2 separate regions of the Homo sapiens genome follow, and region 1 is reported to be linked to region 2. Evidence: microRNA targets listed by miRTarBase, many of them from high-throughput screens and not tested one by one. Region 2 holds a microRNA gene; the other region holds the end of a gene's coding sequence.

Region 1 (8,259 bases), not on the chromosome of region 2:
TGTCACAGATACCACTTAAACTTCTTCTGGTTCAAAAATCACCTCTTCTAAAATTATATCAAATTGCTTCTGCCAACTCAATACTGTTGGATGGAAGAAGAATCTATTGAATTAATTTTATATGGCCAAGTTGACTAGGTAGCTGAAAATAATGCATCAATGGGCAGAGGTACAGCTCCATATAGAAGATTTACAGAGATTATCTTTACTATCACAAAGCAGTCTTTTAAGGAAGAAAGAACATAGGTAGTTTGATTTGTGTATGTCTGCTGTTTATAAACACATTTGCTATAATATAGGACTTACCCTGAAATTTTTATAATCAATTTAAGAGGAATGAATATCATGTGAAAATGTGGTATAACTAGTTATGTTGGCTATTAATGGCTAAAAATATCACACAAAACAATTTCCAGTGGCATCAGAGCTAGTTGTCACCATCATAACCTCCCTTCCTTTTGAGTTGGCAGCCATAAGCTATGAGCCCACAGTAATCCTTCCCTAGTAACATTAATTCACAAGTCAACAGAAGTTCTCCCGAGTTCTCTATCCCCTGCCCCTCACCCTAGCAATTACTGTTAATACCTTAATGAAGAAAGGTTTACCATTTTGAAAACGTTGTTAACACTTTGTTTGGATAATATGTAACTTAATAATTGTAAGCTGATATAAGCTCTGTCCCTCTCCTTTCCTTTTTGCCATTGCCAATCTCTCTGAACTTTGTCCATTCATGTTAATATCTGCAATTCTATTTCCACTGGCTTTTAAGAACTAAGAAGGAGCTGGATGCTATGCTTCTGTGTTTTATTTTTCAATGAACTATACATTTTTAGTTCTGCTAGGCTGTATAGTTATTTGTGTGTAATAGACTATTCCATAGCAATATGCAGTGGAAAATTCCTTTTGACAAGCCATAGCAAGCTTAATTGAGTCATGACATATACCATTAAACAGCTTCCAGTGGGGCAAACATCCTCTTCCTAAGGTAGCATATGCTTTCCCTGGGTTTCAACATGACAATATGTCCTCACACGACTAAGGAAATGACTCTTTTCATTTGTGAAAAGTTTCAGAAAGGTATGGAGTTAATCTTTGAGTTAACAAATTAAACTTTAAAGAGACATAAGCTCTACCACACTTTCTTCCTCCTTAGATTTAGTATAACCCATTTTTTAAAAAGCTTCGCACTGAATTACAGATCAATTTTAAAATGTCTTCTTTATTGTTTAGTCATTCCCTAATGAGAATCCCACATCTATTATTTTAAAATTTTTATTTTATTTTTATTATCACACAATAACATTAATAGAAACTATTCTGTCAAGATAGTATTTCTGGTTCTCTCCCATTGACTTTGCCTGAAGCCACTCCAAATTCTGACATTACTCTTAATGTTTTCAGGACAGATGGTATTAGAGCTTTCAGCAAAAGTAGTAGATTATCAGCATATATTAGTTAACTTGTGAATCTCCATCTGAATATTCTTCAGATACCCATGGGATCTGTGTGATTTTCTAGCTTCAATGTCAGCCTGAAGAGTAACATCAGAAATGGGCATCATCCTTACTTCCCTCCCCAGTGCAGCAATAAGGCAGGGAAAGGGAGATTGTAAACCATTGATTTAAACCATATAAATGGATTGAAAATAAATTGTGCTATCTGCTTTATTTGTCCCCAAAGCCAAATTTACCTAACACATAATACAAGTAGTCTCATTCAATTGCATCAAAGGACTTTTTGGCATCTAATAAAATTATTGCTATTGGTTCTAATTTTCTCTTTGTATTCCAGATGAGTTGCATTCATCTATGCAGATTATCTGATGCTTATCTCCCAGGCATAAAGGCTTCTTGGATAAGGGTCTATTAGATTTGTGATTATTTGGTCACATAGCCAGGTGTGCAGGTAGCTATTATTTTCTACCTACCCACATTGTATGAAAGAATATTTTTCACAATACTGCTAAGGAAGTAATATGAAATCTTGAGTATAAGGTTATAGGAATATACATAATAAGATAAAGAACTGCAGGACACCTTGATTTCCAACCACAGATAATATCTGATGCTTAAAAAAATTCAGTACAAACCATTTAAATGCATTACATTTATTCAGTCTATTTCTGAAAGTAGTGGCTGTTCAGCGTGTGGACGGCAGGGAGAAGTTAATGTGTTGGTAAGCAACCTAAATTTTTATAAAGCTATTTTGAAAGTAACTCAGTGTCACAGAAAGTAATATCAATTACTCTTTGCTTTACAATTGACACTGCAAGTCTGCTCCAAATTTCCATTCTTCAGCTCAGCATCTGCAAAGAAAAGGAAGGCAGAGAATACCCTCCACTGGAGATTTCTGGGTATCAAAATCACAAGACACACTTCTTTACAATATGGCCTGAAACAGTTCAAAGGTTGTTGTTTTTTTCCCAAGTATTGATTAATCCTTTCATCCCCTGGGAATAGGGTATGACACAAAAGGAGGAAACTGAACAATGGAAAATAGGGGTAAAGTCAGTTAATAATCTTGAGGGTTCAAACAACCTACACTCTGTGAGACAGCATAGTGTTGGGAAAAGGGCCTGGACCTCGGAGCCAGTTTTGATCGCGGCTCTACCCTTTAACTATGAAATATTAAGTAAAATGATTTATAATTAGCCAAAGAGAAGGTGAGGGAAAACATGCATCCTTTTTTACAACTAATAATATATGAGGCCGAGCACAATGGCTCACACCTGTAATCCCAATACTTTGGGAGGCTGAAGTGGGAGGATCACTTGAGGCCAGGGGTTTGAAACCAGCCTGGTGAGGTCACATCTCTACAATAATAATAATAATAATAATTTAAAAATTAGCCAGGCATGGTATTGTGGGCCTGTAGTCCAGGCTACTTAGGAGGCTGAGGCGAAAAGATAACTTGAACCCAGGAAGTCGAGGCTGCAGTGAGCCATGATGACACCACTGCACTCTAGCTGGGTTGGGGACAGTGGGAGGAACTAAATTCCATTTGATTCAAAGTGAAAAAAAAAGGGTTGAATGAAAATGAAACTTTGCTGGCTTTGCAGGACTGGCCTGGCACCTGACCAGGAAAGGTTAAAAAAGGTCAAACAAGGCTCCCACTGTGTGGCTAGGAAGAGGTTTCTGGAGAAATGGATTTGGAGGATTTATCTGGTAATTCTCAATCATTCAGCTGTGGCCAAACTGAAAGCCTGTGAGCTGTACCCCTGACACCCAGAGTGTGGAAGCCCCAGAGGCCGAAGTCCCTTGGAACATTCACGTTCTCCCCTGGGATGGGGATGAGGAGGCCATGCAGAAAGACATGTTCTGAGAAACCAGTGATCTAAGAAAATAACATGTTACAAGACCATGTTTTTTCTAGTTTTAGAACATTTTATATAACTCATAAGTGTTTGTATAAAAATTCACGCAAAGTTGCTAGAGAGCATACAATTTCCAAAAATGTCCTGGGTTTTTGTTATTTTCAGTTTTCTAAGGATGCACTCCAATCAATGGAAAAATGCAGACATTATGCAAGATTTCATTATCTTTGGTAAAAGTATTCTCATTATTTTGTCTCTTCACAGTATTAACTCTGATATCCACTTTGTGCAGGGTCTGCTATTACTAGGATGTCATAAAAATGTTAAAGCTGGATCTACAAGAGGCAAGTATTTCCAAACAGCAGTAATAGCTCCTTGGCCCCCACCCCCACTTCATATATCTATACAGTCTGTCTATACATTGGCTGAACCCTTTACTTACCAGTGTAGCCTTGGCAAACTATAAACAGAACTGAGCTTTGGTTTTCTCATTCACAAAAGGGGGTTATAATACTTATTCCTGAGTTTGTTTTAAGCATCAATAAAGACAACATACACAGTGGGTGTGGTGGCTCACGCCTGTAATCCCAGCACTTTGGGAGGCTGAGGCAGGTGGATGACAAGGTCAGGAGTTCAAGATCAACCTGGCCAAGATGGTGGAACCCCATCTTTACTAAAAATACAAAAAAAATTAGCCAAGCATGGTGGCGGGTGCCTGTGATCTCAGTTACTTGGGAGGCTGAGGCAGAAAACTGCTTGAACCCGGGAGGCAGAGGTTGCAGTGAGCTGAGATCATGCCACTGCACGCCATCCAGCCTGGGCGACAGAGCAAGACTCTGTCTCAAAAAAAAAAAAAAAAAAAAAAAAAGACAACATATATAAACAATTTATAGAATATTCAATGCTCAATATTACCTATTTCATTATAATTATGGTTTATCTTCTCATTAAAAAATAATTTCAGCTTTTTAGATTCAGGGGATACATGAACAGGTGTGTTACATGGGTATACTGGATGATGCTGAGGTTTGGGGTACAGACGATCCCGTCACCCAGGTAGTGAGTGCAGTACCCAATAGGTAGTTTTTCAGCCTACATCCCCCTCCTCCCCTCCCCACTCTAGTAGTCACCAGTGTCTATTGTTCCTTTATGTCCATGTGTACTCGATATTTAGCTCCCATTTGTAAGTGAGAATATGTATTTAGTTTTCTGTTCCTGAATTTGCTTAGGATAAAAGCATCCAGCTGCATCCATGTTGTTGCAAAAGACATTATTTCATTCTTTTTTATCACTGTGTAATATTACACGAGGTATATGTACCACATTTCCTTTATTCAATCAACTGCTGATGGGCGGTTAGGTTGATTCCGTATCTTTACTATTGTAAATATTACTGTGATGAACACACAAGCGTTTATGTCTTTTTTTGTAGGACAATTTATTTTCCTGTGGGTATATACCCACTAATGGGATTGCTAGCTCAAATGGCAATTCTGTTATAAAGTTCTTTGAGAAATCTCCAAACTGCTTTCCATAGAGGCTGAAGTAATTTACATTTCCACCAACAGTTCATAAGCAGTTCCTTTTCTCCACAGCCTCATCAGCGTCTGTTATTTTTTATTTTATTGACTTTTTAATAATAGCCATTCTGACTGGTGTAAAATATTATCTCAGTGTGGTTTTGATTTGCATTTCTCTGATGATTAGTGATGAAGAGCACTTTTTCATATGTTTGTTGGCCATGTGAATGTCTTCTTTTGAGAAATGTCTGTTCATGTCCTTTGCTCAGTTTTTAATAGGGTTATTTGTTTTTTGCTTGCTGATTTAAGTTCCTTATAGATTCTGGATATTAGACCTTTGGCAGATGCATAATTTGCAAATATTTCTCCCATCCTGTAAGTTGTCTGCTACTCTGTTGATAGTTTAGTTTGCTGTGCAGAAGCTCTTCAGTTTAATTAGGTCCCGCTTGTCAATTTCTGCTTTTGGGGCAATTGCTTTTAATAAAATTATATATATATATATATATACACACACACACACACACACACACACACACGTGCATCCATTTTTCAGTAATCATAGGAAAGTAAATTCAATAGCATACCAAGTATTCAGATTAAGCTTCATCGCATTATACTGGGAAAATACCGACATTTAACAAAGTACAGTGTGCAGATTTACTCTGTGATTAACCTACATAAAAGAAACCTATTTTTAAAACCTATAGTGTCTGAAGATAAAAAAAACAAACTAATAATGATAACTTAAAAAAGAAAACATCTTTTCCACCATCATTATTCTTCTGTATTTACCCATATACTTGATTTGGTCCAACAGTTCTAGCGTTACTTTATTTTTATTTAATTACTATTATTATTATTTTTTTGCTACGGGGTTTCACTCTTGTCGCCCAGGCTGGAGTGCAATGGCGAGATCTTGGCTAACTGCAACCTCTGCCTCCTGGGTTCAAGTGATTCTCCTGCCTCAGCCTCCTAAGTAGCTGGGATTGCTGGTGCCAGCCACCATGCCTGTCTAATTTTTTTGCATTTTTAGTAGAGTCGGGGTTTTACCATGTTGGGCAGGCTAGTCTCGAACTTCTGACCTCAGGAGATGCCCCCTGCCTCGGCCTGACAAAGTGCTGGGATTACAGGCATAAGCCACCGTGCCTGGACTTTAGCTTTACTTTAAACATATCAATTGGACATAAAGGAAAACAAATGATTAACAGACTGAAGGTACAGAAAAAAAAATTCTTCCTAAGACTTCCTGATGATATAAACCGGGTTACATATGCTTGCAAAACAAAAAATATTAATAAGCAAATAGTCTCTAGTTTAAAGGCACAGAACATAATGAACAATTCAAAAGTATTCAGCTTTAGCAGAATTTTGTATTTCTATAATCAGATAAAGTTGTTTTTTTTTAAAGGCTATTTTCCAAAGAGATGCTATTTTTTGAGATGTGCTGCATAATTTTTCTTAATAGTTGGAAAAATATGTTTGTACTCTAAGTGAAGTAATTTCTGGAGAAAAAGTGTGATGCTGACTGAAGCTAAAACCCTAAGTACATAAGAAGAAATGTATACAGTATTCCCAGGATTTATGTAAACATGGAGAGCCACTTAGTAAATGGCACTGGGTTCTGGTAATCACACAGTCCACTCTCATTAGGCATCTCCCTCTTGTGCATTAATATGTGGCATCATATTCTCAGAGAACATTTTATAACAAAGTGAAATAAAAAGCCCCTCCAGATTGTGAATGTAAGATAATCAGATTCTGTAGTGCTCATTATGACTGCAATTATGTAACAAAACTCTCCAAATATAGTTCAGTGATTGCAGTTATTAATCATTCCGGTTTTGTCTCAAGTACTTGCTTTATAGCCTGCTGGATAGACTCCATAATTCTATAAGCTGAATGTCGAAAGTCAAACATGTGCATGTGAATCTGCTGTTCTAAAGGCCTTTCAATATAATTTACCCTTTCAATTTGTATTTGTGAATGCAAAAAAAGTGGGGGAAATAAAGCTGGTGTCAGTAGAGTCACTGACCTTTGCAGTAAACATAATATAGTCTTTAACAGAAAACAACATTGCAAATAAAAAAACTATTTTGCCAGAACTAGAAATAGTGCTGCTTAAAAAGTTAGTCTCAGAATACCAATCAGTTCTGAGACAATCAGTTACAAAAGTTGGGGGGAAAAAAAAACCTTGAACAAATTTGTACATTTGATAAGCGGGAAAATGGTCGGAGCGCTGGAAAATGTGAATTTTTGAAGGTTCAAAGCACTATCATAGAAAGAATACAGAACTAAACACGTTATGCATAAAACCACATATTCTAATTAATTTAACTATAAAATGCCAAGCAAAGACAGCAGATTTATAATATAGAACAAACACCATCTGCACCACCTTAAATCATTGTTACAGATATATTTCTAGGAAAAAAATACACCTGAACAATTCTCAAGCCTAGATTCTAAGATGCTAAAGTATTAACTAAATAGGATTCCAAACAGACCCAGAGAAAGTTACTGCATAATTATTTAAATATTAACATGTACTGAGTTCAGAAATATAAATATAATAACACATAAACACAGTTTACAAATTCATGTCACCATTTTCCTGTGCTCCATGATTTCTTCAATTTGGCTACATACATTGGGCCCCAGGCTTTGCCCTTATCTGGAATCACTAAGAGCCCACATTCCTGGCCAGTGGGAGCAAATGTGAAGTCGTGGGAGCAAGTCCTTGCTATTCCTTTAATGTCCATAGGCATGATGTTACCGTGGGAGTTTAAAATTTCACTGATCACATCTTGATTTTCTGCCTTGGAAAGCGTGCATGTAGAGTATACAAGTATCCCTCCAGGACGTAAGGCCTTAATTGCAGACCTGTGTGCAATCAGAAAAATGCAAAAGATTAGTTAAGTATATTAAAAAGAAACCAGGGGGTCTGACAGCAAAGATTACGTACTTAAAACTAACCTTACTCTGACTTAGACTGCAATTACTTTGGATGTTTTCTAGTCTTTTTTTTTTTTTTGAGACAGAGTCTAACTTTGTCACCCAGGCTGGAGTGCAGTGATGCCATCTCGGCTCACTGCGATGACTGCCTCCCAGGTTCAAGTAATTCTCCTGCCTCAGCCTCCCAAGTAGCTGGGATTACAGGCGGCCTCCACCATGCCCAGCTAATTTTTGTATTTTTAGTAGAGACGGGGTTTCACCAAGTTGGTCAGGCTGGTCTTGAACTCCTGATCTCAAGTGATCGCCTGCTTTAGCCTCCCAAAGTGTTGGGATTACAGGCGTGAGCCACTGTGCCCAATCTCTGATCTTACACCTATTTCTTTCTAACTTATCCTTGAAGACTTGGAAAATGATAATCAGACCAATCAACATGGAAAAGATAGAGTAAGTTAGACTGGTTGATTGCTATTCAAA
Region 2 (8,259 bases):
TGTAATCCGGCCTGGTCCCCAGAAGGATTGGATGCCGCGGCCAGGGTTACTCACACCTCTTCCCCTGCCTTCACGTGGTGTTTCTTTTGAGGACAGAGACCTTGAGAGTGCACTAGCAGGCAGAGACCGGCAGCAGGGTGGCCTAGAGGAAAGCACTGTGGGTTTGCAGGGAATGGACATAGGGTCTTGTCTAGGATCTCTCTCTTGCCACTTCTGTGGCTCTAGAAGAGAAAGTCACCGAGGAACCTGGACCTCAGATTCCCACCTTGTTTACCTCTGGAGGTGGTATTGATAAATACAGCTCCTCCCAGGGCAAAGAACAGGCCTTTTGATTTTCTGCAGCTCCAGTTTCTAACACACTGTCTGAATCCCAGAAGGCGCTCACCATTTTCTGGCTTGCTGAATGAATTTGGAGCTGCTGATGGGGTCATAGTTACTACTTTTGTTTGAAGCCTCCTTGGCCTGCAAGCTGAGGAGAGTGGGTCCCTGGGCCTTCTCCAGAAGGTCATTTGCTAGCCTACCCTGCACCTAGTGACGTTACTTTGCACACAGCTGGAAGCAGCGTGAGCCTGGATGTCAAGAAGGAAGAAGGTAGCCTGACCACTCTTTTGTGTGTTATAGCTGCTACCATGAGCCCCACAGGGCTAGGTTGGGCACTTGTCACTAGTGCTCCCCAGCAGGGGACCTAGTTCATGCAGTGCTTAGCTCTTGGAGAAAAGGTGGTAGGATTTGCGCCTGATCCCACATGACTTAGTATAGCATGGGCCATCGTGCCAGGTACCAATCCGGACTTACTCCATTGCCCCTTTGCCCCCTTGGACACACACACTTTTAAACAATGTGTGCACCCTAACGAACCATAGTTCCTGAGAGAAGTGCAAGGTTACCTTTCGGAGATGCCACAGGTGGAGCCTTTTCTCTGGCTCATCCAGTATCTCAGAAGTTCTGCTTTTTTATAGCCTTTTCTCGAATTATTTCAGGGTTGTTATTATTAACCATTTTTATTGTCATTAGTTTAAAGTCAGCCACAACACCCACCCTTTGAGGGTCTGCCCCGCTCACTTCTTCCCTTGCCTCATTCCTTGTTCTCCACTTTCCCCTTCATATAACCTTAACAGTTCGGTGAAGAGTTTATTTCCAAATGTCCACGCTACCTTCAGTGCCTCCATTTTTACTCCCTCCCCTTCTTCTCTATTATTTCCAAACCTCAGATTGTCCCCTCACCAAGATTTTCTGACGGTCTCATCTTTTTTTATTTCTGAAGTACCCCATGACAACCTTTTCCCCTGCAACCACCCCTTCTCTCTGCCCTCCTCCTCTCAAGATGATTTTTGTGTATTTTCTACTTCCGTGGCAGGCACCCTGTGATGTCCTCTTCTTTTTGCCAGTGCTCCCTCCCCTATGCTGGGTGGAGTATCCAATCAAATATCTAATACATAATATTTTCATCATATATTCTGATCGTATATTTCAGTCCCCCCCAAACTTATTTAAGTGTCTCTTGAATTTTCACACATCCTATGGTGCTCCCTTCCCCGGCCCACTCCCCAAGACAGGTCACATAAGGTTTTTTACATTTTCATGGCACTTCAGGCTCGTTCTCTATCCCAGCATTTACTGCACTGCCAGTTTACCTATTTTTCTTTCCCACATAATCTAGAACATTCTTTGGACCTGGAGGATGTGTACTAGGGAGTATCCCTAGAATCTAGACTGGTGCCTCACATAACAGGTGGTCAGAAAATGCGCAAGATGTACTATTCGTTAGGCTTTTATTTTTCTCTATGTTCTGCAGTAACTAAGGAAAATCATGGTAAATGTCAATCTTCACACAACAGCAGACACAAAGGGTTTCAGAAACGTCAGATATGAAGAAATCCTCCATCCTTCTTCAACATTTTACTGGGTATTTCAACTTCAAAAGAACAGCTTATTTCTATAAGTGCTGTACAAGATCATAGATTATGATGGAACGACTTCATTTTAGAACGTTAGCAAAACTGTTATACTAAATGTCAATGACAGGAAACAAAGAAAAAAATTTGTTCAATTATATTTTTAAACATATTGTTATTCTCAACAAACGGAATTTTAAAACGAATACAATTTTCCATTATCAAAAGCAAACACTCTATTTCGCAGTTGAACAATGATCACTGATCACAAATATCAAATACAGTGTCCCCCGCCCCCAATCGACATCATTTTCAACTTAGGACCCTGGCATCTACTCCTTGGGGTACCTGTGACTCTCTTTTACACCCCCAAGGGTCTGCCTCAGATCTACTTAAGGGGCGGAATAACCCCTAGCACCTGAATTGAGGATAGCCTCAACCTCTGCATCATCGTCCGAATCCCAGTCATAATTACAAGGCCAGTCTTTAGAGCATCGGTTACGAACCCTTGCCACAAAATGCATGACTTTCAGTTTGCTCGATTCCACGTGTGCTCGGGGCCCCCAGAAGAACTCATACTCCACCGGACTGCTACGGGGCACCGGTTTATAAATCAGGTACCCTCTGCGCACAAACTCTTCTGTGACGATCTTCTTCGGATCTCCAAAGATGCTGTGCTGACGTCCAGGCTGCATTCCTAACTTCCCCAGCACTTTCCAGACCAGAGCTTCCTTGGCGCTGTTGCCCATGATGAAGATGAGCGCTAATATAGACATCAGGAGACTTTTCTTGGTGCCCTGAAAATTGCTCCGGGGCACTGAAGGCTTTTGTGCTTGGGCAGTGCTCGAGGCTTCTTCAGGGGTGGTAGAGGCCTCCTCTGGAGTGCTCGGGTCTTCCTCGGGGCCGCTCAGGTCGTCTTCGGGGGTGCTCGCTACCACAGAGGCGGCCATAGGGGTCTCGGAGGCCTCTGAGGCCTGGATTTTGCGATTGTTGCGGTTCTCTTCTGCGGCTCTCGCATTACGGCGGCGCCGACTCTTTCGTCCCCGAGGCATGTCTCCTGCTAGAGGCTCAAAGCTTACAGCAGTCCTAGGGAAGGATGCTTGTAGCCTCTTCAGGAAGCAACAGCTTTATACCGTAAGAAGCTGCTGCCGCTGAAGCTACCAATGTCAATAGAGTCTTTGTAGCAATAAACAAGCCGTTCTCAGCTACAAAGGGTAGTTCCCACGCCAGCTGACTTGCGCGAGCAGCCGCCGCCAGCACTTGCCGCAGCTGCAAGCCCGCGAGAAAGCTCAGCAAAATTGGCCCCGCCTCTCCTGCCACGCACACTCCTAGCACCAAAGAGGAAGTAGGCTGGTCCTCCACAGGGACTTCCGCTAGCAGATAGGAAAAGGGGCAGGCAGCGACAGGGGTGGGACAAGGGCAGAAATGACAGCTAGAGATTGGAGGGGCCTGGAGTTTGCAGAAGAGAAAAAAATAGCTTAAAGTTTCTGTATTTTCAGCCTACTACAAACATTCCAAGATTGGCTCGACGGTCTAGGGAAGGAGTGCGTCGGCTCCATTCCCACTGACGACGGGCTGTGTGTGTGTTGGGGGTTGGGAGGCCAGGGGTGGCGGGAGGGTGTATTCTTGGAAGGAGTCAGCTGTCTCCAGCCTTCCTTTCCTGTCTTGGCTTACACAGCGCGTTCATTCACTCGCCCTGTTTTCAGAAGGCATTTGTGTGTATACTAATCAATTTGTGGTCCCATGTAGGACCCGGATAATATTGTTATGGCAGATGTGCTGGATGATGTGAGGAGATGGGACTGCAGAAACAAGCAGGGTGAAAGAGGTGCAGAGCCTTTAAAATGTGGTAGATATATGCACGATATATATACTGCCCTGCTTTTATACATACATACATACATACCTATATCGTGCATATATCTACCACATTATGTTTATATACAGTGCATATATCTACCACACATATATGTATGTATGTATGTATGAAAGCAGGGCAGTGACAGGATCAGAGGAATTGCATTTGTGCAGCCTCTCAGAAAAGCAAACTGTTTCCTGGCAGACCACATAGGAAGCAATTGGAATAAGAAGCACTGGGAACTAAAGTATGCCTTAAGGCTGTTGCCATGGGGATGGAGAGGCAGAAAGACATTTTAAAGGTGACCGTTGAAGGGCTTTGCAGACAGAATGGATGAAGTGGGGAATGTGGAGGGGATGATGGAGTTCAGATTGGCTCCAAGGTTTCTAGGCTCCAGTCTTCCTGGACTCCTGATTTATTTTGCTTCTTTCAGAGCATACTCTGAACTTTATCCACTGCTTGCTTTTGCTCACTGTTTGCTCTGCCTGACCTGTCTTCTCAGCCTTCTCCAACTATCTAAATTCCATTTGACTGCTCACAGACCTGTTTCTCCCTGAAGCTTGTCTTGATCTGCCCAAAAGGGTAATGAGTCCATTTTTACTCCATTGAGGAAAGCCCTATAACTAGCACTCTATATCTTTCTTATGTCATTCAAGGTATTAGTTTAAGCAAGTCACTTCTCTCTAAGCCTGTTTTCCCATCTATAAAGTGGGGCTAAAGTACAGCCCTCATAGGGTTGTGAGAATTAAATGAGATAAAAAATGAAAAGCATTTATTACATGGTAAGCACAGATTTTGCCTCTCAAGGTTTTCCAAGCGGTGTGTGAGTGTGGCATTTAATAAATGCGTGCTGAAGGAATTCATGATGGAAAAGATTTTATAGGTGTTCTTAACTGAACTCTTAAGAAACAAATGAATACTTTATGCCTGTCTTGCTGAAATTTTCTTTATAATTAGAGCCCACCGAGACCTCCTGTTGGGTAAGTTAGCAATAAATCAATTTGGTCAAGCAAAGAAAGCACCTCTCCAGGACACAGAGCACTCTTGAGCCAGCCCTCCGTTTGGGATAACCTTTGCACGCGTTCTGGGACATGACCTACTCAAAACAGTAGTCTGGCTCCATCTGCTGTCCCACATTCTGAGAATTCTCGCAGTTTCTGGTCCATTGATAATTGCTCTGAATTGTTTTTCAGTACAGGTATGAACTTATTTTACTGTTTCCAGGAATTTGGGTCTTGCATGGAAGTCTATAGCATGTACAATCCTACCCTCATGAAACAAAAATGGGAGGATTACTTTTGCAGTTTATTTGCTTGTTTTTAGCATGAATTTTTTTTTACTGCGACTTAATCTCAAACGTAGGGCAAAGAAGAGAGATTAATATTATAAACACCAATAGCTAGCTGTATAAAATTTAAATATTAGGCCCTACTTACTGTTTATCTTTTATATATTGGATATGGCAAAACCCTCCTATTACGTCTTCCCTGACCCACTCTGCTCTCTCCTTCCCCACTGTGCTCCTCTATAATGAAGTCAGCAATTATGCCCATGGAGACTTGTATATATTTGCTACCTACTTCTGTGTCTGTACACAATATAGAATCTCTTCCTTTATTTAAAGCACGTCTTCATAATGTATACATTGATCAACACTTTGGTTTTCCAGCTCAACTTTATATTTTTTATGTTTACCCATGTAAATACATGGAACTCTAGTTCATTTATTTTAATTTTGTACATTTCATCATTTTCAATTTATCCTGTTCCTAATGATCCACGCCTATGCAGTTCCCATTTTTCCAAAACAAAATAATACTCTTATTAATATTTGTGCGCATGTTCCCTATGAACATGTGCATGCATTTCTCTAGGATCAACATCAACGAGTAGGGTTGCTGATGTGTTGGCATGTATATGTTTAGATAGAACACATGGCTTTCCACTTTGTTTCATTTATAAAAATCAAACCATTCCATATTGAATTTCCAGGCAAACCTTTTTCCTAATTAATAATGAAATCTCCTCAATTTATACCTCTAATTCTTTCATTCTAGTGGCTGAATGTTATTCCTTGCAATGGATTTACCATAATCTCTTCAAGTGTCTGCCTGTTGGCTGGGCGTACTGTATTTCCAACTTATTTAATTTTCTTTTTCTATTATTATTATACTTTAAGTTCTAGGGTACATGTGCACAACGTGCAACTTTGTTACATAGGTATACATGTGCCATGTTGATTTGCTGCACCCATTAACTCGTCATTTACATTGGGTATTTCTCCTAATGCTATCCCTCCCCCTACCCTCCACCCCACGACAGGCCCCAGGGTGTGATGTTCCCCTCCCTGTGTCCAAGTGTTCTCATTGTTCAATTCCCACCTATGAGGGAGAACATACAGTGTTTGGTTTTCTGTCCTTGTGATAGTTTGCTCAGAATGTTGGTTTCTAGCTTCATCCATGTCCCTACAAACGACATGAAATCATCCTTTTTTATGGCTGTATAGTATTCCATGGTGTATATGTGTCACATTTTCTTAACCCAGTCTATCATTGATAGACAGTTGGGTTGGTTCCAAGTCCTTGCTATTGTGAACAGTGCCACAATAAACATATGTGTGCATGTGTCTTTATAGTAGAATGATTTATAATCCTTTGGGTATACACCCAGTAATGGGATCACTGGGTCAAATGGTATTTCTAGTTCTAGATCCTTGAGGAATTGCCACACTGTCTTCCACAATGGTTGAACTAATTTACACTCCCACCAGCAGTGTAAAAGCTTTCTTATTTCTCCACATCCTCTCCAGCATCTGTTGTTTCCTGACTTTTTAATGATTGCCATTCTAACTGGTGTGAGATGGTATCTCATTGTGGTTTTGATTTGCATTTCTCTGATAACCAGTGATGATGAGCATTTTTTCATGTGTCTGTTGGCTGCATAAATGTCTTCTTTTGAGAAGTGTCTGTTCATATCCCTTGCCCACTTTTTGATGGGGTTGTTTGTTTTGTTGAAAATTTGTTTAAGTTCTTTGTAGATTCTTGATATTAGCCCTTTGTCAGATGGGTAGATAGTAAAAATTTTCTCCCATTCTGTAGGTTGCCTGTTCACTCTGATGGTAGTTTGTTTTGCTGTGCATAAGATCTTTAGTTTAATTAGATCCATTTGTCTATTTTGGCTTTTGTTGCCATTGCTTTTGATGTTTTAGTCATGAAGTCCTTGCCCATGCCTATGTCCTGAATGGTAATGCCTAGGTTTTCTTCTAGGATTTTTATGGTTTCAGGTCTAACATTTAAGTCTTTCACCCATCTTGAATTAATTTTTGTATAAGGTGTAATGAAGGGATCCAGTTTCAGCTTTCTACATATGGCTAGCCAGTTTTCCCAGCACCATATATTAAATAGGGAATGCTTTCCCCATTACTTGTTTTTGTCAGGTTTGTCAAAGATCAGATGGTTGTAGATTTGTGGTATTATTTCTGAGGGCTCTGTTCTGTTCCACTGGACTGTATCTCTGTTTTGGTACCAGTACCATGCTGTTTTGGTTACTGTAGCCTTGTACTATAAAGTCAGGTAGCATGATGCCTCCAGCTTTGTTCTTTTTGCTTAGGATTGTCTTGGCAATGTGGGGTCTTTTTTGGTTCCATATGAACTTTAAAGTAGTTTTTTCCAATTCTGTGAAGAAAGTCATTGGTAGCTTGATGGGGATGGCACTGAATCTATAAATTACCTTGGGCAGTATGGCCATTTTCACGATATTGATTCTTCCTACCCATGAGCATGGAATGTTCTTCCATTTGTTTGTATCCTCTTTTATTTCATTGAGCAGTGGTTTACAGTTCTCCTTGAAGAGGTCCTTCACTTCCCTTGTAAGTTGGATTTCTAGGTATTTTATTCTCTTTGTAGCAATTGTGAATGGGAGTTCACTCATAATTTGGCTCTCTGTTTGTCTGTTGTTGGTGTATAGAAATGCTTGTGATTGTTGCAAATTGATTTTGTAACCTGAGACTATGCTGAAGTTGTTTATCAGCTTAAGGAGATTTTGGGCCGAGACAATGGGGTTTTCTAAATATACAATCATGTCATCTGCAAACAGGGACAATTTGACTTCCTCTTTTCCTAAGGGAATACTCTTTATTTCTTTCTCTTGCCTGATTGCCCTGGCCAGAACTTCCAATACTATGTTGAGTAGGAGTGGTGAGAGGGGGCATCCTTGTCTTGTGCCGGTTTTCAGAGGGGATGCTTCCAGTTTTTGCCCATTCAGTATGATATTGGCTATGGGTTTGTCATAAATAGCCTTTATTATTTTGGGACATGTTCCATTGATACCTAGTTTATTGAGAGTTTTTAGCATGAAGGGCTGTTGAATTTTGTCGAAGGCCTTTTCTGCATCTATTGAGATAATCATGTGTTTTTTTGTCATTGGTTCTGTTTATGTGATGGATTATGTTTATTGATTTGTGTATGTTGAACCAGCCTTGCATCCCAGGGATGAAGCCAACTTGAT

The links. The annotated mature microRNA hsa-miR-4536-3p reads UCGUGCAUAUAUCUACCACAU and lies in region 2 at 3,740-3,760, opposite strand. An mRNA with a match to its seed (bases 2 to 7 or 8) in the 3' UTR can be bound and repressed. Matches are read on the target gene's strand: a 7mer-m8 pairs with bases 2 to 8, a 7mer-A1 pairs with bases 2 to 7 and ends in A, and an 8mer does both.
Region 1: the mRNA of NSUN3 is a reported target of hsa-miR-4536-3p. Seed matches in the 3' UTR shown: 7mer-m8 at 5,369-5,375.

What each region holds. Positions count from the first base shown.
Region 1 is chr3:94,125,665-94,133,923 of GRCh38, reverse strand. It overlaps NSUN3 (NOP2/Sun RNA methyltransferase 3), which reads right to left. Exons shown (of 6, transcript NM_022072.5): 6 at 2,092-7,713. The coding sequence ends at 7,434. Among named protein-coding and RNA genes, the nearest start is that of NSUN3, 67 kb to the right of the region's middle. RefSeq lists an enhancer at 3,066-3,155.
Region 2 is chrX:55,447,063-55,455,321 of GRCh38, reverse strand. It overlaps MIR4536-2 (microRNA 4536-2), which reads right to left and starts at 3,827; the gene lies at 3,740-3,827. It overlaps MAGEH1 (MAGE family member H1), which reads right to left and starts at 3,195. Exons shown (of 1, transcript NM_014061.5): 1 at 1,756-3,195. The coding sequence starts at 2,947. The coding sequence ends at 2,288. MIR4536-1 (microRNA 4536-1) reads left to right here and starts at 3,740; the gene lies at 3,740-3,827. RefSeq lists enhancers at 2,733-2,782, 2,933-2,982.